Linked DNA regions of Homo sapiens. The protein of the gene in region 1 interacts with the protein of each later gene in a pairwise test. Each region holds a gene or a part of one and is shown in the gene's direction. Other genes may lie near its edges.

What was found. The genes of interacting proteins can lie anywhere in the genome.
Region 2: the proteins of ABHD16A (region 1) and GYPC interact in binary tests that used the Homo sapiens proteins (3 or more experiments, as listed by UniProt).
Region 3: the proteins of ABHD16A (region 1) and DTX2 interact in binary tests that used the Homo sapiens proteins (3 or more experiments, as listed by UniProt).

Annotation. Positions count from the first base shown.
Region 1 is NC_000006.12:31,700,316-31,707,273, reverse strand, and holds the start of ABHD16A (phosphatidylserine lipase ABHD16A), read left to right. Parts: upstream 1-3,949; 5' UTR 3,950-3,992; coding exon 3,993-4,124; intron 4,125-4,315; exon of another isoform or gene 4,316-4,505; coding exon of another isoform or gene 4,506-4,662; intron 4,663-5,143; coding exon 5,144-5,200; intron 5,201-5,933; coding exon 5,934-6,000; intron 6,001-6,182; exon of another isoform or gene 6,183-6,245; coding exon 6,246-6,332; intron 6,333-6,958. Other genes in the region: LY6G6F (lymphocyte antigen 6 complex locus protein G6f precursor), read right to left, coding at 316-367; LY6G6F-LY6G6D protein precursor, read right to left, coding at 316-367. UniProt on the Homo sapiens protein: Phosphatidylserine (PS) lipase that mediates the hydrolysis of phosphatidylserine to generate lysophosphatidylserine (LPS). LPS constitutes a class of signaling lipids that regulates immunological and neurological processes.
Region 2 is NC_000002.12:126,652,119-126,659,173, forward strand, and holds the start of GYPC (glycophorin-C), read left to right. Parts: upstream 1-4,039; 5' UTR 4,040-4,145; coding exon 4,146-4,194; intron 4,195-7,055. UniProt on the Homo sapiens protein: This protein is a minor sialoglycoprotein in human erythrocyte membranes. The blood group Gerbich antigens and receptors for Plasmodium falciparum merozoites are most likely located within the extracellular domain.
Region 3 is NC_000007.14:76,464,702-76,471,724, forward strand, and holds part of DTX2 (probable E3 ubiquitin-protein ligase DTX2), read left to right. Parts: intron 1-5,318; exon of another isoform or gene 5,319-7,023. UniProt on the Homo sapiens protein: Regulator of Notch signaling, a signaling pathway involved in cell-cell communications that regulates a broad spectrum of cell-fate determinations.

The DNA of each region.
Region 1 (6,958 bases):
CTCTCTCCCCCAGCCAGTGAGGGGGTCTGAGGGCAAGAGGGAAAAGGCTGAAAGTTGGCAAATGCCCACATCTCTTCTACTCATTTCTACTTTTCTGGAAGCATTTACTCATTCTTCTTATTTTATAAAGGAAACTGCATAACCTGGACCCTCGTTGCCTCTGGGTCTTCCCTAGTGTCAGAGGCAGGAGGAGGTTGGTTGGGGTAATTCTATCTTCTTGAGTCAGATGCCTTCGCCAGGCTCCTAGGAGAAAGAGCAGTAGTCCCTCCCCAACCTTGCAAATAGCTAAGGAATCCCGTACCTCTTGCCCCTTACCTGCAGCCTGGGGAGTTCCACATAGGAACAGGAGGAGGAATAAGACTGCCATGGGGAGAGCCTGCCAAGTTCTCTTGCTCCAAGACCTGGTGTCCCCAGGGAGGAAGCAGAGTCCAGATAAAGGCCCACACTCGCTGGTCTGGAGTGACAAGGGGCTCTGGAGGGGATGGGAATGCTGGGGCGATAAAGCCCAGCAGCATGTCTACTAGGGATAAAGTGACCACCACTTTTCTATCCTGGAGAGAAAAGGACCCAGCCCAGGCCACTCTGAAGATGACCTTTTTGCTCTTCTGATTCCACATCAGCTAAGGGGCTCAAATAAAGACTTTCCATGCAAAAAACCATGCAGAGAAGTGGTCCTGCCTGTCTAGCTCTTGTCAGTCTGGAAGTACATTCTGAGGTCTCTTTCACTCCTAAGAAAGGTCAGCCATGAGTTGGGTGGATCACTTGAGGTCAGGAGTTCGAGACCAGCGTGGCCAACATGGCGAAACCCTGTCTCTACAAAAAATACAAAAATTAGCCAGGCGTGGTGACATGTGCCTGTAATCCCAGCTACTTAGGAAGCTGAGAGGCACCAGAATCGCTTGAACCCGGGAGGTGGAGGTTGCAGTGAGCCGAGATCGTGCTACTGCACTCCAGCCTGGGAGACAGAGCGAGACTTCATCTCAAAAAAAAAAAAAAAAAAAAAAAAAAAGAAAAAGAAAAGAAAAGAAAAGAAATGTCAGCTATGAGTGAAGAAACTGAGTTTGAGTTTTTATGTTGGTCCTCCACAGAACCCAGCACAAGACTGTGTATCGAGTCAGTGTCCCGTAAATGATTTGGAATGACTTTCCCTGTGGTTGTCTGGCATACCCCGGACCTCTCCTGAAACCCTAATAAGTGTATTAAATTATTACTCAGGGACAAGGCTAACGGGCTGATTCATCCTTCTGAACGGCAAAAACTCCTAAGGCAGATCTTCATGCAGTTATTACAGTTTTAATGTGTAATTTATTTATTTTTAAAATTATTTTGATGAAATATTCCATACATACCAAAAACTATATGAAGTACAACTATATAATGGATAAATGCTTAACAGAGTAGAAGACTGGACAGCAATGAGAATGAACAAACCTAGTGATTTGCAACAAAGTTGAATCTCACAATATAATGAGAGTAAAAGAAGCCTGGCCAGGCATGGTGGCTCATGTCTACAATCCTAACACTTTTGGAGGCCAAGGTGGGAGGGTTGATTGAAGCCAGAAGTTTGAGGTTGGGCAACAGAGCAAGACCCCAACTCTGAAAATAAAGGCCAGACGCCGTGGCTCACGCCTGTAATCCCAGCACTTTGGGAGGCTGAGGCAGGCGGATCACGAGGTCAAGAGATCGAGACTATCCTGGCCAACATGGTGAAACCCTGTCTCTACTAAAAATACAAAAATTAGCTGAGTGTGGTGGTGGATGCCTGTAGTCCCAGCTACTCAGGAGGCTGAGGCAGGAGAATCGCTTGAACTCAGGAGGCAGAGGCTGCGGTGAGCAGAGATCATGCCACTATACTCCAGCCTGGTGACAGAGCGAGACTCCGTCTCAAAAAAATAAATAAATAATAAATAAATAAATAAATAAATAAATAGAATATTCCAGGCCGGACTCGGTTGCTCATGCCTGTAATCCCACCACTTTGGGAGGATGAGACAGGCGGATCACCTGAGGTCAGGAGTTCAAGACCAGCCTGACCAACATGGAGAAACCCCATCTCTACTAAAAATAAAAAAATTAGCAGGGCATGGTGGTACATGCCTGTAATCTCAGCTACTTGGGAGGCTGAGGCAGGAGAATCGCTTGAACCCCAGAGGCAGAGGTTGTGGTGAGCCGAGATCGGGCCATTGCACTCCAGCCTGGGCAATAAGAGCGAAACTCGGTCTCGAAAAAAAAAAAAGAAAAAGAAATAGAATATTCCAGGCCAGGCACAGTGGCTCATGCCTGTAATCCCAGCACTCTGTGAGGCCAAAGCAGGAGGTTCACTTGAGCCCAGGAGTTCGAGACCAGCCTGGGCAACATGGTGAGACCTTGTAAAATTAGCCGAGTATGGTGGTGTGGGCCTATAGTCCCAGCTACTCAGGAGGTTGAGGCAGAAAGATGGTTGAGCCCAGCAGGTGGAGGATCAGGGCAGTGAGCCGTGATTGTGCCACTGTGCTCCAGCCTGGGTGAAAGAGCTAGACCCTGTCTCAAAAAAAAAAAAAAAAAAAAACAGAAAAAAAGAATATTCCGTTTCAGTCAGAGATCCTCTATGCTGTGTAACCACAATTCTGAATTTTCTCTTTCTTCTCCACTTGCTTTATCATTAAATTTTATGTGTTTTTGAATCTAATATACTAGTATCACGTATACATTCTTCTGTGGCTTTCTATTTTCACTCAGCATCATGGTTTTAAGATCCAGTTCATGCATAACAGTAATGATTCATTTATTTTCTTTTTACAAATATTCCGCATATCTTACTGTGCTGAATTTTCGTATCCAGGACCATGGTGTAGCTTTCCATTTATTGAAAAGCTTTTCGTTTACCTCTTTCTTTTTTTATTTTTTCAATTATTATTGTTATTATTTTGAGGCAGGGTCTGGCTCTGTCACCCAGGCTGGAGTGCATGGAGCGATCTCAAACTCCCGGGCTCAAGCGACCCTCCCACCTTGGCCTCCCAAGTAGCTGGGACTACAGGTGGGCACCACCACACCCTGCTAGGTCTTTTTTTTTTCCCCCTTGGTATTTTGTGTAGAGATGGGGTCTCACTATGTTGCCTGGGCTGGCTTGGAACTCCAGGGCGCAAGCAATCCTCTCTCAGCCACCCCAAGTGTTGGAATTACAGGCATGAGCCATGGCCTGGAACTCCTGGACGCAAGCAATCATCCCTCGGCCACCCAAAGTGTTGGAATTACAGGCGTGAGCCACCGCGCTGGGCCAGTTTACCTTTATTTATTTATTTAGAGACAGAGTCTTGCTCTGTCACCAAGGCTGAAGTGCAGTGGGAAGATCTCGGCTCACTGCAACCTCTGCCTCCCGCGTTCAAGCGATTCTCGCGTCTCGGCCTCCCGAGTAGCTGGGATTACAGGCGCGCACCACCCATGCCAGGCTAATTTTTGTATTTTTAGTAGAGATGGGGTTTCACCATGTTGGCCAGGCTGGTCTCGAACTCCTGGCCTCAAGTGATCCCCCCGCCTCGGCCTCCCAAAGTGCTAGGACTACAGGCGTGAGCCACTGCGCCGGGCCGGGCCAGTTTGCCTTTTCAATAACTTTTTATAGTTTTCTTCATAAAACCTTGCATTTCTTGTACTAGATACATTCCTAGACACCTTATGTTTTCGGTTACTCTTATCAAGTACTCCTAATCTCACCCCTCGTTTCCGCTGTCGCTCTAGAGTCTGCCAATAATGAGACAGAAAAAAATTATTGAACCATGCCCGGTAATTTTCTGATTCTCCGCGTTCTAGTGGTCTTCCACTAGTTTCGGACCACTGCTGTACCCGTAGCTCCAACTGCGCGAAACTCTTCTCAGGAAGCACTGAAAATGTCGCAACTCGCCCGGAGGCGGAGCCGGTACGGGCTGACGTCAAGGGCACACAACACCTCAGAGGCAGGGAGGGCGGGGCCGGCAGGGGGACCTGCTGCTGGAAGAGCAGCGGCCCGAGCCGGGGCCATGGCGAAGCTGCTGAGCTGCGTCCTAGGCCCCCGGCTCTACAAAATCTACCGGGAGAGGGACTCTGAAAGGGCCCCGGCCAGCGTCCCTGAGACGCCAACGGCAGTCACTGCCCCCCATTCCAGCTCCTGGGTGAGTCGAGTTCCTCCCCACCGAAGAACGTGGTACAGTCCAAACCCTTTACGGCCTTTTGCTCCCCAGAAGTGCCCATAATGGGAAATAAGGGGAGCCTGCTTGTCAAGCCAGTTATCCGCAAAATCTGCGCTCTGTGTGCTTCCTGAGTTAAAGTCACGCCTACGGACTGGCCGCCTCCTTTCTTTTTCGCTCTTTACCGCTTTCTCATTCCGACTGCCACTCTTTGTTCTTTCCTCTCCGCGTCCCCCCGACCCTGTGTGTCGTGGTTCGTGCCGGTCCCAGTTGAGTCTTGAGTCCCGGGAAGAGACCCTGCGCGGACTGGGGAGCCGTTGAATTTTGCTGTCAGACTCCCAGTTTCCTCTTCTTCAGTGCCTCTTCATGCCTCCCCCGGCTCTGTTTTTATCTTCCCTTTACCCTCGCCTTGAATTTCAGAATGACTTTTACAGATCCTGTATCCGTCGGTCCTCCCCTCAACCCCCGCCCAACCTAGCCTGGAGACCCGAGTCATTGTATTCTGGAGAGCTGGCGGGTGGTGGTAGGCTGTTCTAAATATTCTCTTCCTTTTTATCAGTTGTCTCATTGTGTTACTGTCTCCTACAAACTGCCCGCTCCTACCCACATTCTCTTCTTAGTCAACTACTCTTATTTCTGATGCTTTTCTTTCCTTCTTAGATTGTCTAGGTGTCTTTTCTTTCTTCTCAAACTAACCCTTCTCCCCACATGCACGCGCCTGCAATCCATTTGAAACTAGGCTGTGGAAAAGGAGCAAAAATCGTCCAATGCTGCTTTCACTTTTGCTTCCAAATCCAGCTCCCTGTGTTTGTTCCCATGGTCAGGGGTGGGAAATTAGGTTCAGAGTGAGGGTGAGGAAGAGGAGTTTCTGTGGGGGCCAGGGATGTTTCAAGAGAGATAGTCAACGAGACTAGAACCAGAGGACACACAGCAGGGCTTCTGAAAGGGAAGGGAAAGGACCTGCCAGTGGGCAGGGTCCTTAAGGAGGCCATCTGTTTTGGCAGGATACGTACTATCAGCCCCGTGCCCTGGAGAAACATGCTGACAGCATCCTGGCACTGGTATGTCTACCCTGGCATCTGGGACTCTGCATCTTTCAGACCCACCTGTCCTCTTGAACTTAGCCCTCCCTAACTTGGGAGCAACAGTGCCCTGGGGTTGGGGGATGCCCTGGGCTCTGCAGCAGACCTCTCCAACACAGACACACAGGCACACTCTAAATGTGCATACTTGGCACTCCCCTTTGGTATGTAGCACTGCTTTCTCTGGGGGCAACCTGAGCCGTAAGGAAAACATGTTTACTCTTGGGACCATCTGCAGGTGCTAAGTCCTGCAGTTCCCCAGTGACCTGTCCTCCCTGGCAACTAACCTCTTTGGCTGCAGGGACAGCTGTTCTTTCTGGCACAGTTCCTGTGGTGACGTTTGCGCATCTCTTGGGGACCAGGCCAGGGGCTGTCCTGAGCAGGGCCAATTGAAAAGGCTTGATTAACTTGAGTAGACAGAGAGACTGCCTTTAAATGTGATGGAATTATGTCTGGAGATGGAAGACATAATTCTTCCATAATTCCAGAGGAAGAAAATAGAGCCTGTACCAAATTTTCCCAGCCTCCATTACATTGACACACTACTTTTCAACAAATACTGAGCACCTACTGTATTCATGGTGTCATACACCAAATATGATATGATATCCCTCAGGTTGTCCATCTTGCTCAGAGTGTATAGTATATGCCTGGAATGGCAGGTGTGTGTGTGTGTGTGTATTGATTGCCTGTCCCTGTCTCTCTGCTGCAGGCTTCAGTATTCTGGTCCATCTCTTATTACTCCTCTCCCTTCGCCTTCTTCTACTTGTACAGGAAAGGTCAGTGTGGTTTCAAAGGTGGTGGGGTAGCAAATGGGCAGGTTGTTGGCAGATGAGCCAGCTCCCTAAAGAGGAGAGGGGACCTGTGAAGATGGCTTGGCTTCCCTCTTCCATCAGGCATCTTCTTCCTCTTAGGGTATGGCTGTTCCAAACAGGGAGTGTGGGGTGGAGGTTGGGGCTGAACTGGGAAGAGGAGCTGAGGGACATTGCGGAGAGGGTCTCACATTGTCCCTCTCCCTTCCCAGGTTACTTGAGTTTGTCCAAAGTGGTGCCGTTTTCTCACTATGCTGGGACATTGCTGCTACTTCTGGCAGGTGTGGCCTGCCTCCGAGGTAGGTGGAGAGGAAACCTGGTTTGAATCTTATCTGTCACTGTCACTGGTTAAAAATTAAGTACCTTGTGCAAATACATTTTAGTGATGGGCCTCCGAGAGGGAATCATTGAGAATGGTTTAAGGCATGATCTTTTCCTTAAAAGACTTGGGTTATAAATATGAAAAAATAACTGAAAAGTAACAAAAAGGTTTGCTTTTTTTTTTTTAAGAGATAGGGTCTCACCATGTTGTCCAGGCTGGTCTCAAACTCCTGAACTCAAAGTGATCCTCCCACCTCAGCCTCCCGAAGTACTGGGATTATAGATGTGAGCCACTATGCCTGGCTGCTTTTATCTAGAAAAGATGCATATACCCTACAACAATTCTATATATGTATACATACTAGGAAAACTCCTGCACATGTATAAACAATATAGATGTACAAGAATACAGCATACAACATTGTTTGTAATAATCCTAAGCTGGAAACAACTCCAGTGGCTACAAATAGTAGGATGGATAAAATATGTTCTGTGTGGCCGGGTGTGGTGGCTCATGCCTGTAATCCCAGCACTTTGGGAGGCAGAGGCCAGTGGATCACGAGGTCAGGAATTTGAGACCAGCCTGACCAACATGGTAAAACCC
Region 2 (7,055 bases), on another chromosome or scaffold:
GAGAGCCAGTCCAAATCCCAAAACTGAAGAACTTGGAGTCTGATGTTCCAGGGCAGAAAGCATCCAGCACGGGTGAAAGATGTAGGCTGGGAGGCCAGACCCATCCCTCCTTTTCATGTTTTTCTGCCTGCTCTATATTCCCTGGAAGCTGGTTAGATGGTGCCCACTAGATTAAGGGTGGATCTGCCTTCCCCAGCCCACTGACCCAAATGTTAATCTCTTTTGGCAACACTCTCATAGACATACCCAGGATTAATACTTTGTATCCTTCAATCCAATCAAGTTGACACTCAGTATTAACCATCACACCTCCAAATGAGGAAACAGTGTGAACAAAATATTCACCTAAAAGAAGCTGTGATTTGTAAATAAGCAACTGACAGCATATTCGGCCTCTCTGGTAATCAAAGAAAATGCTGACACAAATAACTATGTATGTTTCTTTTCTATGGAATTAACTATGATTTTAAGTTTGCTGTTTAATTCTGGCAAGAGACTCTGAGATAAACACTGGTACTCTTGATTGGGAAGAAAGTAAAGGTCACAGCCAGAACTTATGAATGTATCAAAAGCTTTAAATGCATTTGTAACCTTTGATTGAGTAATTCTGCTTGTCAGAATATACCCTAAGGAAAAAATTATGAAATCCAGATATTTATGTTCATATGGTTATCACAGCACTATTCAACCAGCAAAGAAAATGAAACAACCTAGTAATTAAAATGAGTTAAAGAGCTTTTCTACTTTTACATGAGAAAATGCTCATGACATAATGTTTAGTAGTAAAAGCTCAGCACTTGAAATCACGTATTCAGTAAAATCTCAAGAGTATAAAGCAAATATTCGTAAATGCATAAAAAAGACTAAAGGTAAATAACCTTAATGTGCTGGAGATTGCAAGCAATTCTTAGGGTTTAGGTATCTTTTTGGCTTTTTCTTTTTTATTTTTTCTTTTTGCACAAAGAGCATGTGTTACTGTGATGAGGGGCAAAACCTTTCATTAAAGGCCCAAGCAACATCTACCTACCACCATCTGTAAGGGCTCACCCAGGAGACAGCAACAGCAGCAGGGGACCGCCAACTCCACTCCCAATAAGGAACTAGCACTGAGGATTTGGAAGGCAGTTTCCCATGAGCAGTTTCTTCCCTGAAGAGGAAGAGAAAATTCATCTCCAGGACTGGATCATACCATCTCACATCTTGGAGGGCTCTGCAGCTTGTATCAGCCACAGACAGTCAATGAAGACACAGCTAGAACCGTCCATCCCGGCTGCACTGCAGAGCAAGTTCTTGTCACTGTGCTGAACTTCTGGGTTCTCATCTTTACAATGGACTCTTGGCAATACTCCGTTTAAGAGTATTTATGGGAACTAGACAAGATAAGAACTGGTTTATTATTGCAAGATATAGCTGAGTTTTTTTTTTAACTTCATTAATAAATATCCAACACATGAAGACACACTAATAATACATTTCTTGACTTATGTCAGACTGTTACCATATAATTAAATTTTTCACATAATTATTTTCCCTTCTTAAGAGTCATTTATTTAACATTAGACACTTTCATAGTTAAATTTTCTAAAATATGTCAAATGTTTCCCTGTTAGCTAATTTGCTACACACTAAGACACACTATTTACTTTCTTTTTCAAATGACTTGGGGTCCTTACTATGAACAAAGTATGTGTTAGAGGAGGAAGGGGGCCAATATCTTTAAGTAACTCCAGTGTACTCTCATTGTAATTACCTCTTTAATTATTATCGAATATATTACTCACAACAGCCTAACTTTGCAGATTGCTCCAATTTCCAGGCTGAGAAAAATGAGGCTCAGAGAAAGAAAGTGAAATGCTGAAGGTTACGCAGCTAGTAGGCAGTAGAGTAACTAACCCAGATTGAGTTCCAAAGCCCTGTGGTCTTTAATAGCGCAAGGAACTGTCACATCCTCCAGTGATGGCTGGAGCTGAGATTGCTTTAGTTCTGTAACAAATGCTACTTCGTTCTTGTATCTGACCTCTGCAGTTTGTGGGGCTTTCAATTTTCACTGTTTAGTTCGTTAGTTTATTAATTTTTGGCTTATTTTCTGTAAGGAATTCTCTGCAACATTTTGATGCCTTCAACCTGTCTTACCCTAAGAAATTAAGGAAATCTCTTATGATTACGTCTAAGGCCAGTAGGTTCTAAATGAGTCTGTAAAAGTGACTTCTCTAAGTGTGCTGCAATGACCTAATGACTTGTCCGTTGTTACCTGGCAGAACTTTCTGCTTCTTTCCAACTTTCCAGCTGCATTTCAGATAATTAAAGTTATTTTCTCTCAGGACAGAGGAGCGGGACTACTGTTCCACGTAGACGTATGTGTATGTATTACCAAAAAAAAAAGTTAAACTGTTAAAGTAATCACGGGTGCAGTGGCTCACGCCTGTAATCCCAGCACTTTGGAAGGCCAAGGTGGGTGGATCACCTGAGGTCGGGAGTTCGAGACCAGCCTGACCAACATGGAGAAACCCCGTCTCTACTAAAAATACAAAATTAGCCAGGCGTGGAGGCACATGCTGGTAATCCCAGCTACTCGAGAGGTTGAGGCAGGAGAATTGCTTGAACCCAGGAGGCGGAGGTTGTGGTGAGCCGAGATCACGCCGTTGGACTCCAGCCTGGGCAACAAGAGCAAAAACTCCGTCTCAGAAAAATAAATAAATAAATAAATAAAAATAAATTAATCATTACTCATTGCTGTTTATTAAATGCCTTTTCTGTTCCCACTGTGATTCTACAATCACTGCCTCTGTAAAACCCCGGAATGCAGGTGTTCTTGCCTCCATTTTATAGATGAGGAAATCAAGACTCAGGGCTTCCCCACCAGGCCAAAGGCATTCTGTGAGTAGTTTATTTCAATTCAACATGGCTGTGCTGCACATGGCAGTTGGAGTAAAGATCTATCAGCATCGGGGGTTCTTCATGATCTAACTAAAGTGAATCATGAGTGCTTTCCCACTGCGTCAAGAAGGCCTGGAGTTTGTGCAGCCCGGCTAGAGGTGAGCAAAGCCTCTGTGTTGCAAATCTCCAGGGCGCAGCCTCTCATTGTATTCAATGCAGATGACAGTCCCAAAGGCACCGCCCATACATTGTACAGACAGCTGGCCTGGCTCTCCGGATTGTGCAGGATAGGCCTTAATGGCAGAAGGTAGGGGAGAGGTGGGCGTCACAAAAGTGCTTGGGGAACTATAAAGTAAACAATGAAAAGCAGCACAGGAAGGTTCAGACATCACACAGGAGAAGCACAGGGTGTTCCCCTGGGTGGGGATTTAAAACAAGGGCCTCAAGTTCCCTGCCCTTGTCTCTGGGCAGAAGGGGCAGATAATGCTATGATACATTTTTTGTAGGTGGTGCCATTTGACTGCATTTAACCAACAAAGGTATGTATCGAAATCCACGTGGAGATTTTCATGGCAAAAGTAGAGCGAATTCACAAACTGCACTGTGTCTGGCAGCTTCAGACAAAAGCAATGGGAACAAATCACGACTCTTGTCCAGCAATTCTTCCTGTTTTGGAATGATCTTTGCTCAACAGCCCATCCATGAGTACAGGGCCCCCAAAGGCCAACAAGACAGGGACTCTCTCCAGGGACAAATGCCCCGCAGCTGAGAGAGGCCGCCCAGCTATCCAGCGGCCGCGCAGCCAGCCAAGATTTCAACACAGGTCTGCCCTATTTGGTCACCATCCCCGACAGTGCTGGGCCAGGCCATCATGTCACATTGGGGAGTTTTCCCTGCACTCCAGGGGGAATTCTCAACCACAACCTCTGTATCCGGTAGTGGCAGATGGAAAGAGAAACGGTTAGAAAAGCGTGGTTCTTGCGCAGGAAAGTTGGAGCAAAGAAGAGTTCAGAAGTGGGCGGGTGTGTGTTTAAAAAAAAAAAAGGGGGTGGAAACCCCACCAGCCAAGTCTGCAGAAAAAAAATAAATGAAGTCTGCCTATCTCCGGGCCAGAGCCCCTCCCCTCGGCCCGCGCGGGAGGAGTGTGACCCAGGTGCCGCTTCCTCTCGCCGCCGAGGGTCAGGAGCCCGGGAGCGCGACCCTCCCCCGGCCCGGCCTGGCCCGGCCTGGCCAGTCCCCGCGGTCTCTGCCCGGGCTGACGCCCAGGAATGTGGTCGACGAGAAGCCCCAACAGCACGGCGTGGCCTCTCAGCCTCGGTGAGTACCCGCCGTGGGGAAGGGTCCTGGGGACCCACTGGAGGCCGCGGCCCGCAGCAGCCAGGGGCCGAGCCACGGCCACGGACGCCCTGGTGTCCCGGTCCGTGCCGGGCCTCCAGGCGGAGGAGGCGTCCGCTGGGCTCAGATCCCCGACTCCAGCCCCGGTTCCCCGGCGCCTGGGCTGCGCGGAGTCCCTGTCCCGCGTCCCGGACCCCTACGCGCAGCCTCCACGCGCTCCGAGCTGGAGAAGCCGCCAGCCCGCCCTCCCAGGGCGTGTCGCCCGCTTTCTGTTTCTTTGTGCGGGGCATGTGAAATGTGTGGGGCCAGAATTGTCTCCCTAAAGAACAGTTAGGTGAGAGTTCACATCACAAGTTGCTTCTGTGCTGCTCCCCAGCCAGGGTCCGACCGGCCAGGCTCCGGTGAACTCCAGGCAACTCCAGCCTTGCCCAGGGACTTGCTCGCTCCGCTGGGCGCCGCAAAGGCACACAGATGCGAGGGAATCCTGCGGCCTGGATCCTTTGGGGATTTGTAATTCCTCGCTGCTGGTTTTCTCTTTTAAACCATCACGTTTTCTTGCTGAGAGGAAATCATCTGTGATGAAAGTCTTTGTAGATGCTTGGAAACATTGCTGGGCCTCTCTCTGCCCTCTTCCTCTGCCGTTGGACTTTTGCAATAAAAACTACCATTTGATTTTACCAAAAAACGTAATGTACATCCCTCTTACCCCCACCCTGCCGCGGTCTGATTCTTAGAGTCTGTCAGAGAGGAGATACCCTGAGCCTATCATGTGACAATGATACCTTATTGATATGATAATGATATGGGTATTGGAGACACCAACTCTTTTATAAGTCTTTGAAATCCAGGGGGTTGTGAGGCCTCACCCCTCACCCCGCCTGAGCTTGGAGCTTGGCGTGGAGGAGTGCTGCTTCGGTCTACGTGTGTACACGGCACTCCATGTGCCTGTGGTTGTGCTTGCGTCAGCCTGGGAGTGCGCAGGCATCAGTGGTGCTTGGGAGCGAGGCCCCTCAGTCTGCACTGGGATCATCTGCACTGCCTATAAACAAGGCAGCCTCTCTTAGCTCCAGTTTCCTCATCTGCAAAGTAGGAAAGTAGGAATAATAACAGGAGATAACTCATCCAGCAGCACGAAGTGCGTATAAATGTCCCGGCACGGAGTCTGACACATCCTAAGTGCTGGATCCGTGCTGGGCATGTTTATATAATTGCACATGAGACTGTGGTTCCCGGAGCACGTAACTTGAGCATATGTTTATGTGTGTGTATACGGCAGGTCCTGGGTTAAAGGGACAGGAGCCACTGTCATTATTCCAATTCAGTCACTGAGGAGGTGAGGCTGAGAGGCATTCTCATGTCTGAAGAGGATGGGCTTGCCTGACCCCCGCCCCCGTGCCCAGCCCAGCCCAGCAGCCCAAGCAGTTCTCCAGGACTCAGGTTTCAGACCTTCAACACTTGCCTTGGGAGACAAACAGCGGTGCAGCCCTTGCTTGCAAGCCATTCCACATTAGACTTCGGATTGATTTATGGCAGGATCCCTGCTGTGCGAGAACTGCAGGGGGGGTGGGGGGCGGCTATTTCTTGCTGCTAACTCAGGCAGGATGTGTCTATATCCTGTCTCAGTTTATGTAGCTGCTCATCAGAGCCAGAGGTTAGAGCGGAGAGGACCCACTTCCGCCAGGCCGGCCTGCTCTGCTCAGCTCAGCTGGGCTAGGCCCCAATGCCACAGTTACTGCGCGTGAGTCATGCACAGCAATCCATTGCCTTGCCCTTGGATGGAAGGGGTCAAGGCTCAGTGAGAAGACGGCCAGGTTTGGCAGCTTTATATAGAATTCACCGCCTCTGGCAGAAGCAGAGGATTGCATTAAGTGCCAAATGAAATTCCACCTCAGCCATTGCTCAATTCCTCCAGATGTCACTGGCACTGGGAGTCACATGATGCTGGTGGTCAGCAGCTGGACCCTTCCAAGGGTGCCCGTGGTTGGGCAAGTATTTCTGGGGACTTGCAGAGCTCCCTGGGGAGCAAAGGGTTGTGAAGTACAAGGCATTCTGCGCTTGTGGTGGGAACAAGTGAACCCATCTGCAGTGAGTAGGAAGAGGTCCCCTCAACAGAGGTGAGAGGTTGGGCCAAGTCAAGTCAGTTTGCCTCTTCAGGTGGCAGACCTGTATGTACATCTATGCCTCAAGTGCCTGTCTGAGGCCACAGCCAAAACATCTTCCAGTAACTGAGCATACCCAGTGGGCCAACAAGCACGCTCTAAATACAAAACCAAACAAACAGTAAAGTTAACAGTGAATGAAGAGTTAAAAATAGGAGAAAGACACCTTCTCCCTACCTCAATGGCAATTACTTTATTTATTGAGGATAATCCTTCTAGAAGTAAATTTGCTGATACAAATATTTCTTATTTTACATAATAAAAATGCATTTTATATATTTTACTTCATCTTGTTTTTTTTCCATCAGAATATCTCTTAAAGGTTATACCTTGTTATTTTCTTTAATCAGTTCCTCTGCTGATGGGCATTTAGGCTGTATGCAGACTTCATTTAATTTTTTTAAACCACACACAGCAGTCCTGTGACAATGAGTAAGGAGGATTTTACATGCATGTGTCTGTAAACTGTTAGGATAAATTCTCCCACCTCAGCATTTGATTTCTGGGACAAAGTGTGTATTCATTTAAAATGTTAGTAGATCTTAAGAAACTACCCTCCTAAAGGTCACACCGGTTTCTCATGCTCACAAATAGCCTATGAAAGTCACTATTTCCCTGCGTCCTCACTCACACTGCATTTTTTATCTTGGCCAAACTGAGAGGTAAAACAACAAAACAAACGCT
Region 3 (7,023 bases), on another chromosome or scaffold:
AGGGACATTTTAATGGAGCACACTGGAACATGTGGAATGGGTTTAGACTGGATTATTCGCTTTGTGGCGGTCTTCTTACATACATCATGCCAGCTTCTTCGTGGGGAGAGGCAGGTGAGTGGTTTTGCCCTCAGTTGCTTATAGTCTAGTTGAAGAGATAAAGTGAACATAGAGAACTGAAAAGGAACTTGCTAAGAGGGTGTTTTCTTTCATTCTTTTTGTTGTTGTTGTTTTGTTTTGTTTGTTTACTTTTTGAGACAGGGTCTTACTCTGTCACCCAGGCTGGAGAGCGGTGGTGCAATCTCAGCTCACTGCTCAACTTCACCTCCCAGGCTCAAGAGGTTCTTGTGCCTCAGCTTCCCGAGTAGCTGGACTTACAGGTGCACACCATCATGCCTGGCTGATTTAGAGGGTGTTTGCTTTCTGCTGGGCACATCCAGGCATCGTGGGAAGTGCTGTTTAAATTGGGCCATAAAAGGGTGGGTAAGGTGAGGACAGGGGACCAAGTGGGTGGGATTCAGGGTGAAGCAGAGTCATGGGGGTGGGGACAGACACGCTGATGCACATGGGAGTAGTGGATCCTCATTTACACTCTGGAAGGGAATTGTGGAGAGGGAGGTATAGATGAGGGGATGGAAGGGAAGGGCACCGGCAAATATTGTTGATAGCGAGGGAAGGGCGGTATTGTGATCGGCTTTGACTGTCAGCCTAAGGAATTTGAATTTCATTCTAGAGATCCAGGGGAGGTGTGTAAAAGACAAGATCAGAACGTTAGTTCAGGAAGCTTAATCTTTTCTGCCCCCCCATCTGAGATGTACAAGAGGGTTAGAAAGCAGAGTTGGAGAAGCTGTTTGGGAGGGAGCACTTATTTGTTTTTTTGTTTTGTTTTGTTTTTTTGAGATGGAGTCTCGCTCTGTTACCCAGGCTGGAGTGCAGTGGCGCCATCCTGGCTCACTGCAACCTCCACCTCCCGGGTTCAAGTGATTCTCCTGCCTCAGCTTCCCAAGTAGCTAGGACTACAAGCACCTGCCACCATGCCTGGCTAATTTTTGTATTTTTAGTAGAGACGGGGTTTCCCTCTGTTGGCCAGGCTGGTGTCGAACTCCTGACCTCAGGTGATGCACCCACCGAGGCCTCCCAAAGTGCTGGGATTACAGGCGTGAGCCACTGCGCCCGGCAGGGAGGGGGTAAAGTGAGAGGCATAAGGGTCCCGGCCAGGTGTTAGCAGGGGGCTTCAGAGGTGAGGAGAGAGCAGGGCAGGCAGCTGCTAGGCCTGGGGGAGCGGGCTGCGGAGGACTGAGAATCTGAGGTTTTTCTCTTGGCCGCCTGGGGGAAATCCAGGGGGAAAAGGAGAATGAGGAAGGAAGATGCGTTTGGCCTCAGACGTGTTGAAGGTATTAAGAGGCCAACAGGAAATGAGGCCATGGGCTAGAGAGAAGAGCCCTGATTCATTCCCCAAATGCCTCCCGAAATTCTGTGCGCCGAGGCTTGTGTTTGGCACTTGGAGTACAAAGATGAATTCAGCAGTCTCTTTGGTGTTTGCCTTATCAGCTAAGCTGAGAACAAGATTGATTAGTACACACTCCTCAGTGTTCATGCCTGACCTACTTTTCCTTATTTAGTAAGTTATTTTTAATAAATGTAGTAAGCTCTGGCAATCTAGGCACCCAAAACAAAAGCTGGGATCATGAAACAAAAGTATATATCTAATCTTTTTTTTTTAATTTTAAAAAACTTTAAAAAGTTTTCTACTTTATCAGGTCCCCTTAGAACATCTAATCATTTCATTTGAACTTGTTTTCTGTTCTTACCCTGAGGTAATCATTATCTCCTTTCTTTCATTTTTTTCTTAGTTTTATCTTACATGTGTATTTCTTTGTTTCTCTGTCTCTTTTTTTTTTTTCTTTGAGGCAGAGTTTCACTCTTATTGCCTAGGCTGGAGTGCAATGGCACGATCTCGGCTCACTGCAACCTCCACCTCCCGGGTTCAAGCTACTCCCGATTCTCCTGCCTCAGACTCCGGAGTAGCTAGGATTACAGGCATGCGCCACCATGCCCGGCTAATTTTGTATTTTTAGTAGAGACGGAGTTTCTCCATGTTAGTCAGACTGGTCTCAAACTCCTGACCTCAGGTGATCCACCTGCCTCGGCCTCCCAAAGTGCTGGGATTACAGGTGTGAGGCACCGCGCCTGGCCTATTTCTTTCTTTTTTTAGAGACAGTGTCTCACCTTGTAACCCAGGCAGCTGGAGTGCAGTGGCATAATCACGGATCACTGCCGCCCCAAATTCCTGGGTTCAATGGATCCATCCCCTTCAGCCTCCTGAATAGCTGGGACTACAGGCACAGGCTACCATGCTTAGCTAATTTTTAAAGTTTGTGCAGAGGCAGCTTCACTGTGTTGCCCAGGCTGGTCTTGAACTCCTGGGCTCAAGCAATTCACCCGCCTTGGCCTCCCAAAGTGCTGGGATGATAGACATGAGCCACCATGCTCGGCAGTGTTCATCTTTCGTAGCTATTGCTAGACCATTTCCTGAATGTAGTGCTTATACCAGTATCCACTTTACCAGCAGTGTCCTGTGTCTTGCAGCTCCACAGTCTTACCAACATTTGCTGTTGGCCAAGTGAATGGGTAGAAAATGGAATCTTTGGGAACTTGGTTTCTAGGTCCCTGAGCCCTGCTGCTGAATATCTCCTCTTATGTTTATTGGCATATGTGTTTCCTGTGAAATATTCATGTCTTTTGCCAGTTTTTCATTAGGGTTCTTGGTGCTTTATTTTTTGTTGATCTATAGGGCTCTTTATATATTGCTGATTTTAATCCTTCGTGTCTATTGCAAATATCTTCTCCCAGCTTTTAACCTATTATTCCTCTTTCTTTAAGGTGTCTTCTGTTGATCAGCCATTCTTCATTTTAACATAGCGAAATGTATTTTTTCCCTAGTACTCAGTTTTCTGGGTCTGGTTTGAAGTCTTTTCCTGAACATAACCCTTGCCTTTAAGGAGCGTATGCATTCTCCAGTGGAGGAGACAGATAATGGCACTGAGACGTCATGTGGGCATTGATTGTTAGAAGTGGCCACTTCTGCCTGTGGAGCGGGAGCGAACTTAGGAAAGATCTCACAGGGCAGAGTCTTGAGCTAGGAATTAAGAGATGAGTAAGTGGACAAGTGCGATGGGCATTCTCAGTGGGGGACGAAGGGCATGAAACATCCTGACCTGCCCTGGGCACTGCCAGGAGGTCCAGATGGCAGGAGCTGACGGTTTGAGGGGCTCGGGCAGGGCATCCCGAGGACAGCTTTGGGTGATCTGTATGCAAGGGAATATTGAAGCCATGGGAACAGATCCTGAGGATCCGGGGGGAATGGAGAGAGGAGGGGAGGAGGGGAGAGGGAGGCCAGGGCCTGATTCCCGGATGCAGAGAATGTTATCAACGCCCGGTGTGGCTCTGGGGAGCACCTGGGGCTTCCCAGGGGCGGGTGCTGTTGGCATGCTGCCTGCTGTGCTGTTGGATGCTGTATTTCACCCTTAGGTGTTGGGCAAAGGCTGACATGTCTGCAGAGGGCAGGGCGTGTTGTTGGCAAAGCTAGCCAGAGGCAGAGCACTCTCTCACTTTTTGATAGAGACATGAGTTCAGAGAAGTATTGCTCAACTGTAGGAGTGTGAAAGTACAGTAATAGATGTGAGGGAGGCCACAGGGCAGAGGTCTGCAAACGATGGACCCTCAGCCAAATCTGGCCCACTGCCATTTTTTTTTTTTTTTTTTTTTTTTTTTTGAGATGGAGTCTCACTCTGTTGCCAGGCTGGAGTGCAATGGCACGATCTCAGCTCACTGCAGCCTCCGCCTCCCAGGTTCAAGAAATTCTCCTGCCTCAGCCTCCTGAGTAGCTGGGATTACAGGCACCAGCCACCATGCCTGGCTAATTTTTGTATTTTTAGTAGAGACAAGGTTTCACCATGTTGGCCAGGCTGGTCTCGAACTCCTGACCTCAGGTGATCCACCCCCGCTTGGCCTCCCAAAGTGCTGGGATTATAGGCGTGAGCCACCACGCCCAGCATTTTTTTTTTTTTTTTTTTTTTGAGGCAGGGTCTAACTCTGTTGCCCAGGCTGGAGTACAGTGGCACAGTCTCGGCTCACTGCAGCCTCCGCCTCCTGGGTTCAAGTGATTCTCCTGCCCCAGCCTCCCAAGTAGCTGGGACTACAGGTGCACGCCACTACGCCTGGCTCATCTTTGTATTTTTTTGGTAGATACGGGGTTTCACTGTATTGGCCAGGCTGGTCTCAAACTCCTGGCCTCAAATGATCCACCCACCTCAGCCTCCCGAAGTGCTGGGATTACAGGCGTGAGCTACCGCATTCAGCCCCACTGCCTGATTTTGTTCATAAAGTTATATTGGTATGCAACCCCTCCTGTTTACACATTGTTTATGGTTGTTCTTGTGGTCTAGTGGCAGAGTCACTGCAAAGACTTTTTCTGTCCTTTACAGGAAAAGCATGCTGGCCCTAGCCATAGGGAGTCATGGTAGCTGTGGCCACCCAGAGAGGACGTTCCAGCCACCATTGCAGTTTAGCTGGTGTTGCTAGGTAGATCATGGATCTAGGTCCAGCCTGCAAATATTGCCATCTTTCCTGATTTTCAAGGGAAGCTTGAAATCTAGATTTTTTTTTTTTTTTTTTTTACTGTGAATATTCCTTTTTTTTTTTTTTTTGAGACGGATTCTCATTCTGTCGCCCAAGCTGGAGTGCAGTGGCATAATCTTGGCTCACTGCAACCTCCACTTCTTAGGTTCAAGCAATTCTCCTGCCTCAGCCTCCCGAGTAACTGGGACTACAGGCGCTCGCCACCACACTTGGCTAATTTTTTGTATTTTTTAGTAGAGACAGGGTTTCACTGCATTAGCCAGGATGGTCTCGCTCTCCTGACCTCATGATCTGCCTGCCTCGGCCTCCCAAAGTGCTGGGATTACAGGTGTGAGCCACTGAGCCCGGCCAAATATTCCAATTTTTAAACATCAGCTCAGTTTTTAAAAGCCAAACCTTAGTAACCCAAGCAAAACACATCTACAGGCCAGTTTGTCCGTCGTCAGTCTGTCTTGGTGGGAAAGACAGGAACTCTGGAAACAGATTTGGGTTTTCTCAGTCCCTGGATATCCTTGGGCAAGCTGCATGTCTTCTGGTGACTCACTTTTCTCAGTTGTGGTATGGAAATATCCCGCTTCCCCAGTTGTGAGGACCAACGAGAATTACTAGTCAGGTGGAGGGGCTTAGCACGGTGCCTGGTGCCTGGTAAACCTTTACCTGGTAGCCATTGCTGTTATTCATTTATTTATTTATTTTACACAATAATTTACTTATTGAGAGCCTTCTCTCCCCGCCCTTGCAGTCTCTAGGTCACTTTTTCCACTTGTAGATTTTGTGCACAAGCCCCAGAAAGATGGCTGGGGGCAGGGGCTCTGCGTACTATTCGATGAGACCCATAACGTGGCTGTAACTGTCTTTCTCATACTGCAAGAACACGGCTGGCAGATCCAGCTCCTCGTATAGTGCCTTCACCCGGGCCACCTTCTCGGCCTCCTTCTGCCTGTAATTTTCCTTCAGGATCTGGTACTGTTCTGGAGTGGCCTGTAGCAGACACTGAACCACCAGCCAGCTGCATTTGTTGTCCTGGAAGTCATTGCCAACTCTGCCAGTCACACTGGGGTCCCCAGAGAAGTCAAGGTAATCATCCTGAATCTGAAAGAACTCTTGAATCTCCAGCAGGATCTTCTTGGCACTGGTGTGCTCCTTCTTGTCATCCATTCTTGACATGTACATGGCTGCAGCTACAGGAAGGTAGAAGGAGTAGAAAGCTGTCTTGTACTTGACAACAGATTTGTGCCTTTTTTCGGTGCATCTGCGAAGATCCACATTGCCCTGGGGGGTTGTGATGAGGTCGAGGGTCTGCCCAATCTCAGTCTGATAAGAATTCTGCTGGAAGAGCTCCATCAGGTTCAGGTAATAGGGCTGCTCCCGGCAATACAGCTTCAGCAGGCAGTAGATACATGCTTCCAGAAGGATAGCATCATTGATGGCATCCAAACCCATGCCCAGCTTCTGATACCAGGAGATCTGTCCCTGGCAGGTAAGGGATGAATCCATAATGTCATCTGCCACCAGGAAGAAAGCTTGCAGCAGTTGCGCATACCAGCCCACAGTCGGTGCCCACTGGAGACTATCAGCATCCAGTTTCCTCGGCTCCACCAGCTCCCGGAACGCTACTAGCACCATCAAACCTCGGTGATACTTGCCTCCAATGGCATTGTACTCCAGGACCTCCTTGAGCCGGGCAGTAGCATCTCCTGTCTCTGGGTGCCCCATCTCATCCTCAGTCAGCACCCTAACGATCTGGGAGTAGTGCTGAACGAAATCCTGCTTTGCTTGGGCATAAATATCTGATTTCTGGTTTCCATTCGTTCTTTTTTTTTTTTTTTTTTTTTTTGAGACGGAGTCTTGCTCTGTCGCCCAGGCTGGAGTGCAGTGGCGCGATCTTGGCTCACTGCAAACTCCACTTCCTGGGTTCACGCCATTCTCCTGCCTCAGCCTCCCTAGTAGCCGGGACTACAGGCACCCGCCACCGCGCCCGGCTAATTTTTTGTATTTTTAGTAGAGACAGGGTTTCACCATGTTAGCCACGATGGTCTCGATCTCCTGACCTCGTGATCCGCCCGCCTTGGCCTCCCAAAGTGCTGGGATTACAGGTGTGAGCCACCGCGCCCAGCCTGGTTTCCATTCATTCTGAGGGAGGAGCAAAGGGCTGTGTTCCTGGATGCGGGTTCCTGCTTGGCTGTTATTTATTTTTTTTTAAAGAGACAGGGTCTCGCTCTGTTGCCCAGGTTGGAGTGTAGTGGCACGATCATAGCTCACTGCAACTTTGAACCCCTGGGCTCAAAGCAGTCCTTCTGCCTCAGCCAGTCAAAGTGCTGGGATCACAAGGTGTGAGCCACTGCACCAGGCCTGCTATTACTGTTACCATTACACATCCAC